Homo sapiens: one gene and its partner. The protein of the gene in region 1 purifies or fractionates together with the protein of each later gene. This does not show direct contact. Each region holds a gene or a part of one and is shown on either strand. Other genes may lie near its edges.

Region 1 (3,847 bases):
CAGAAATGAGGAGAGAAAGTATTATGAATACAGGTCTTATTTCACTAGACAGTTACTTTTGGCATTTATTCATTTAATTCGATAAGACCATATTTGTCAGTAGGGACCAGACCACATTAGGAACAATCTATAAACAATCCCCGCCATAAAGACCAGTTTGCAGTAAGATTGTTGGTAACTGGCTTAGTCAGTTTTGTTTCTTATGTTTTTTTTTTTCTTCTTGCTGGGGCATTGGAAATGTCAGAAAACCCAATTAAACTGGCTTAGAAATAATGGAAATTTTTTGGGCTCACATAATAAAAAATTTAAATAGTGGACCTAATCCAGTGGCTCACAGCATGTCCCCGGGGATCTGTCTGTTGTTTCTCTTCTGGTTGCCTCCCTTGGGGACGCAGGATAGCTGCTGGCTGCTCCCAGAGGTACGTCTTTTCTATTTGCTTTTTGTGGGAAGGTGATCTTTCAAAAAAGTGCTCTTTATGGTGGAGTTTATAGATTGTTGCTAACGTGGTCCGGTACTACTGACAGATAAACATGGTCTTACCCAATTAAATGAATACATACCAAAAGTAACTGTCTAATGAAATAAGACCTGTATTCATACCACTTTCTCTCCTCGTTCCTGACAGAACTCTCTCAGAACAGCCTAGCAAGCAGAAGGCAGTAGAAGTTTGTTAAAAGAATGGACAATCCAGCCCACCAAATAATCTGATATTGAGTGTTTGAATTATGGAGGGAAGCTAAACTTCATCCCCTGTGAGGCACCCATCCTGGGCTTCACTCACACTGGACTAGGGTGGGTCACGTGCCCACCTCTAAACCAGTTCCTGGAGTTGGGAGGGCGGAATTAGAGCTCAAGACTTCTTCCTCCCCTCTACAGCCACATTGCACTGGGCTCCTTGTGACACACGTGTGCTCCATGGGGGGTGTGTACCCAGGTAAACCTAGGGGCTCTTATTCAGGAGGGAGGGGGCACTGGGTGGTTAAAAACAGCGATTGTCACCATGGCAAAAACAAGATGTTTTTTATGAGGGAAATAAAAAATAAAGCAGTCCTTCCAAACTTTCCAGAATATAGATATAATGGAAACTTTTGTATATGCAAATGATTACTTATATATGTAGAGATGCAATATATAAAATATAAACAATCATCTTTCGTCCACATAAGATCGCCCTGATTTGTAGCATTTGCTAATTTCTGTGGTATAAATACTCCTACTGTGGCTGATGCCAGGCTTCCAGCATTATGTGACTGAGCACAGAGCTGTGCAGTGATGAGCAGCATCAGCAGGTGCAGCCAGCTCCGGGCACCACTGCACAGATCAGTGCACCTTCATATGCCCAAGGCTCGCAGCAGGGGCGGACCAATGCTGCATTTTATAGACAGAGTAAAGCCTGTCATGTAAGACTATTTATGTGAACCTTTCAGGACACTTGGGGTAAACACATTTATTTAGTAGCATCTTGACTAATAACAATTTCCTTGATCTAAACCTCCCAACAGCTTTTTGGTTCTAAATTATTATTTATTATTTTTCTACCTAGATTTTTAGACATTAGCTCACCCATTTTTTATACGGCTTTCTGTATTAGATTAATTGGTTTTTGCATGTTTTCAAATGAAGAGTGCTTAACAGCAGGGTTACACTTAAAGTAGTTATGTTAAGGTAATTCATAATAATGAAGACAGGCAAGTTGCTGTTTTCTGAGGTTCTCATTGAGGCTAATAGTCTTAAGCTACATCATGAGCCTTAAGAGCCAATGTTTGCATATGGGATGTATACCACGAGCTTCTAGAAGCTGGAATGTGGTAATTTTGTTATAGAAGATTTTATTTGACTCGTTCCTCATTTTAAGATGAGTTGAGAAAAGCTGGGTACTCTCAAAGTTTTTTAAGAATTTATTTTTCTGCTTTATATGCTGCTATCTCCTAGTTGATAGCTTGAACGGTGGTTGATCTAAAGAATCACATTTTTTTTATTACTAATTTGGTTAAAACACTGATATTTGTGAAATGGCTATTTCTGTTTGTAAAGATAGACCAATTTCACAGAATTGAAGTTACTGGCTAATTGAGAGGCTCAAAATGGTCCATCTTCCTTGGTCCTGCAAGAGTAATAAAAAATCCCCACAAAATACTGTTCTGCCACCTTACTTTATTTACAAAACACATTATTGGGCATATTTCAAATCGAAGTCTCATTTCTGTGACACTGGGTTTTGATTTTCTTTCTCTGCCATTGTAAACTAGCTGGTCTGTGTTAGATAAGCTTTTACTGAAGTAATATTGTGTCTTCCCCTGTAGCATTCTCTTTCTTGAGTGACCTTAGGACAGGGTACAGAATAAAATTATATGCTCTGCAGCACTCTTGAGGACACACTCATTTACTTGCTGCCAGATCATCAGGTTAGCCTTGTGCTTAAGCAAAAACACTGCTGCATTTGTGCCAAGTCAGCATTTTCCACAGGAAAGTAATCTGTATTTGACCTTTTTAGTAGAAAATGGAAATAGTTGCTTTCTGTCATACCTTTAGTGAATGATAGGAGACCTATTTCTGTACAGAATACATTGGAACCTCACTAGTACGTTATTGGTAAATAGTGTACAGTGTTCATCTGTCTTGATTTTGTTTCATTCAAGAGGTATCAGTTGCTGAAAGGAATGAAAGGAGCTTGTCCTTTCTTCTCACTTATCAGGTGGTCCTGTTGCTGGTAGTCCCTGAGATCACAGTTGGCTTCCAGCTTCATTTTATTCAGCATTTATTTAGCACCTTATCTTTGCCAGGAGCTAAGATCTTTAAGCTGAATTCATGTTGAGTTTTATAAAGAATTTAGTATGTCAAATAATTTGTAGAATTCTTAGTAACAGAATAGGATAAAAAGCAGTGGAAACTTCTCAGCAGATATTTCGAATTGGATAGTACTTCCTCCCCTGCAGGAAATATGGAAGGTATAAGAACTGCTACTAATTATGCGGAAATTTCAGTTTAGTAACCAGAAAGTTACTGATATACAGCTCCCCCCGCCCCACCCCTTTAAAAATAATAAACAGGGGCCAAGTGTGGAGGCTCATGCCTGTAATCCCAGCACTTTGGGAGGCTGAGGTGGGTGGATCACTTGAAACCAGGAGTTCAAGACCAGCCTGGCCAACGTGGCAAAACCCCATCTCTACTAAAAATGTATAAAAATTAGCCGCACGTGGTGGTGCATGCCTGTAATCCCAGCTACTGGGGTGGCTGAGGCATGAGAATCGCTTGAACCTGGGAAGTGAAGGTTTCAGTGAACCGAGGTCATGCCACTGCACACCAGCCTGGGCGACAGAGTGAGACTCTGTCTCCAAAAAAAGGGATGAATAATAGTAATAATAATAAACAGAAATGCTGTCTCTTTTTTTTTTCTTTTTTGAGACAGTCTTGCTGTGACACTGGAGTGCAGTGGCGTGATCTCGGCTCACTGCAACCTCAATGCAAGCCATTCTTCTGCCTCAGCCTCCTGAGTAGCTGGGATTACAGGCACGTGCCATCATGGCCAGCTAATTTTTGTATTTTTAGTAGAGACGGGGTTTCACCATGTTGGTCAGGCTGGTCTCTAACTCCTGACCTCGGGTGATCTGCCTGCCTTGGCCTCCCAAAGTGCTGGGATTACAGGTGTGAGCCACTGCGCCTGGCAAGAAATGCTGTCTCTTAAGCAAAGAAAAGGTCCCTCTCCCCCGCATTTGGTGATTTTAAGTGTGTTTTTTAACTTAAACTACTATTGTTTTTAGGAGGTTGCTCAAAGAAGTACAGTCTTTAAAACAACCATACCTGAAGAAGAGGAGGAGGAGGAAGAAGCAGCTGGAGTGGTTGTTG
Region 2 (3,500 bases), on another chromosome or scaffold:
AAGAGATAATGCCAGGTAAGGCAAAGGAAGGGGAAGCAGGAGAGGGAAGGGATGAGCAGCAAAGACAAATAAACACTACCCCCTGTTTGGGAGTCAGTTACTGACACTACACACAGACACAAACACATATACATCCCTCACAAAGACGTAAGACCGAAGCAACAGTGAGCCTTAGGTGACAGTAGGCTCTCCTGATCCTTTGGGACACTTACCAAACCCATCATTTGGGCACTGTACACTAGGAGAGAAGCCTGAGGCAGGACTGGGCTTGGTCAAGGACACTGCAAGACCAGCAATTCGGCTGGTTCTCCCTTTCAGCTTCTCCATTAAATCCCTGGAATAGGAAAGGAATTCCATGAAGGAACACAGGAAGGTATCAGACAGCCTGACATTCTGCCTGCAGGATGGAAACAAATGGGGAACTAGGGGAATCAAACTGTTGACTTATTTCTTCCCTTTCAGTCTCTAAATTCTGAGTCTGGACAATGATCTGCTCTAAAAAGTAGAGCTTTAGTGAGTAAGGACCCCAGGGAGGGAGGGGAGGGATGCCCAGGGTTACTCAGGGACAGGTAGGTGAAATTTAGCCCTAAGCTCAAGATCATTTCTTTTGATGGTACACCTTTCCTTCTGAGGACCACCCTGCCCTCTCCCCTGACCAGACCAGGGCAGCCAAGGGAAGTTTTCACTAATAAGTGTGAGGACTGTTCACTGAAACTTTCCCTCTATGGATGTTTTCCCAGCAGATACATCTAGTTCTTACCTGGTAAAATGCTTGCTCTCCAGCAGAACCATGTAAGGGGGGTTGGGGCCATCAGTCAATACCCACTGTAGGTCCTCCTCTTTCTCTACTACGTGGATAACCCCTGTGTCTCCACTAATTGAAGCTGCCAGGACAGAATGAGTCAAATTAAAGCTCCCATAGTTAACAATTCTGACTTTGCCTCACTGATTCTGCGTATCTTTTATCCCCTAAAGATGTCACAACATATTTGGGTGAATACAGGCACCTCTAGATTTGAACTGAAAAGCTGTTGCCCCAGCTCCATCTGAAGGTTATCAGGAGGGAATGGAATATAAAAGAGCACAAGAGGACTCATTATATGCCAGAAAGGTTCTGTGAACTTCATTTTTTTGCCCTCTGCCCTCAACCTTATTTAGCCATATACATAAGATTCTACAACAATAGACACCAAAGTTTTCAAACCTATATTTTCTCTAGGAAATGCCACTAAATCTCTAGCTCAGGGTTTTAGCTTTGAATCTTCCTTTGTAAAAACACATGCATACATGCCCTTGGCCTCAGGAGCTTTCCTGGATCGTCATTCCTTTTGCCCTTTTTGGGAATGACTTTACTTGCTTCTGGCCGGTTTTAGATGAGGTTAGTCAAGAACTCTGAGGTTTCTAAAACAGAGCTTCCCAATTGATAAGCCTCGAATGGATCAGAGATGTGCTCTCATTGGTTCTCCTCATTCCAGGAAACCTAGGGTTTCCAAAGTCACCTCCAGCCAGGAGCCTACTTATCATTTACCCCAGGATGCCCTGAAAATATCACCCATTTCTCTATGTGCCAGGATGCTATACAAATAACATTTTCTATGTGTCTCATGACATGATAAAGATTGGGAAGCACTGTATTAGAGGATGGATGACCCAGAGTCCAGAATACTTTGAATTCTACATAATTCAAGGCATTAGGTAATACTCCTTAAGTCCCCAGTGATCTGTGTGGAGATATCCTAGGGTCTCCCTGTGAGTCTTCTCCCTACAGAAAATTGGATATGTTATTCATCAATTATTTTAGACCAGTAGTTCTCAGCCCTGGCTGTATATCAGCATCACTTTAAATGCCCACTCAGCCTCCCAAAGTGCTAGGGTTACAGGAGTGAGCCACCATGCCCGGCCCTTGCCACAGCATTTAAAACATGGGAAAAGGAACAGATAGTGTGGCAACTAAAACATATATAACTTCGGCCGGGCACAGTGGCTCATGCCTGTAATCCCAGTACTTTGGGAGGCCGAAGTGGGTGGGTGGATCACTTGAGGTCAGGAGTTTGAGACCAGCCTGGCCAACATGGCGAAACCCCATCTCTACTAAAAATACAAAAATTAGCCAAGTGTGATGGTGCACACCTGTAATGCTAGCTACTCAGAAGGCTGAGGCAGGAGAATTGCTTGAACCTGGGAGGCGGAGGCTGCAGTGAGCTGAGATTGTGCCACAGCACTCCAGCCTGGGTGACATAGTGAGACTCTGACACACACACACACACACCCCAAAACTTCAACTCCAGCGAGGACAGGAAGACAAACTATGATACTGGACTGAAAAAAACCTGGATTCTAATCTGGGTTCCAACTAGTAATGGTGTAGTCTTAAGTAACTTGCTTATTTTCTCTGCGCCTTCAATGAGGTTTTCTACCTCTATTCATCTCATACTGTGGGGACAGACGAAAGAAGGAAGAAAGGATAGAAGGAGGGAGGGAGGGAAAAGAAACCTATTTAAAGCCCCCTTTGAGAACTTTAAAGCGTCTAAGAGAAGCAGAGTATTATAATCAGAAATCAAATCTGGGTATCACTTTTTTCTCCTTAGTTTTATCATGTTAGCTACACTAATTAAAAAGGGCGGAGCCTGCTCAGAAAAGACAGATATGACGAAGTAAGATTTGGAAATAAGTAGGTTGAAAAGGAACCAAGATCTTAATGAGGAAGTGGCCACAGTCCCGCTTACCCCCTCTTGTTTCTCTGTACTGGCACGTGGCTTTACCTCTAGAGGCTTTGCTTCCTACAGAGCTGTTTTAAGAACATAGAGTAGAATGACTTATTCCCAAAGGAGTTTTCTTAGAGCCTAGTTACAAGAGGTTGGGGTCCTGGCCTTCTGTACTTTATAGTGAGGTTCCAGCAAGACCAGCAGTCTGATCTCAGCCCACCCTGGACCTAGCTCTCTTCTACCTACAAACCAGTTCAGAAACTAAGTCCAGAGGGCTGGGCATGGTGGCTCATGCCTGTAATCCCAGCACTTTGGGAGGCCAAGGCGGGCAGATCACGAGGTCAGGGGTTCGAGACCAGCCTGGCCAACATGGTGAAGCCCCGCCTCTACTAAAGATACAAAAAATTAGCTGGGCACGGTGGCACGCGCCTGTAATCCCAGCTATTCAAGAAGCTGAGACAGGAGAATTGCTTTAACCTGGGAGGAGGAAGTTGCAGTGAGCTGAGATTGTGCCATTGCACTCCAGCCTGGGCGAGAGGGCGAGACTGCATCTCAAAAAAAAAAAAAAGAAACTAAGTACAACAAAAACTTTATTTGGGGCTGTTTGGAACCAGTCAACCTACTCCCAGTGCTTTGTATAGCAGGGACATGGGACAATTAACAGATACTATAGCTCAGGGAAAGATGGCTAAAAAAGTAGTAACTGCTTCCACGAACAAGTCCTTCACTTCTCAGTGTCCCAGTTTTCTCTTATCAAATGGGAAGAAGGCTTCAGGAAATTATACAGCACTTTTG

Evidence for each region. Proteins that work in one complex are often made in the same cells at the same time.
Region 2: the proteins of LMNB1 (region 1) and NCSTN fractionate together in Homo sapiens (co-fractionation; one large-scale study listed by BioGRID). This does not show direct contact.

What each region holds. Positions count from the first base shown.
Region 1 is NC_000005.10:126,828,932-126,832,778, forward strand, and holds part of LMNB1 (lamin-B1), read left to right. Parts: intron 1-3,762; coding exon 3,763-3,847. UniProt on the Homo sapiens protein: Lamins are intermediate filament proteins that assemble into a filamentous meshwork, and which constitute the major components of the nuclear lamina, a fibrous layer on the nucleoplasmic side of the inner nuclear membrane.
Region 2 is NC_000001.11:160,346,383-160,349,882, reverse strand, and holds part of NCSTN (nicastrin isoform 1 precursor), read right to left. Parts: intron 885-3,500; coding exon 761-884; intron 335-760; coding exon 213-334; intron 1-212. UniProt on the Homo sapiens protein: Essential subunit of the gamma-secretase complex, an endoprotease complex that catalyzes the intramembrane cleavage of integral membrane proteins such as Notch receptors and APP (amyloid-beta precursor protein).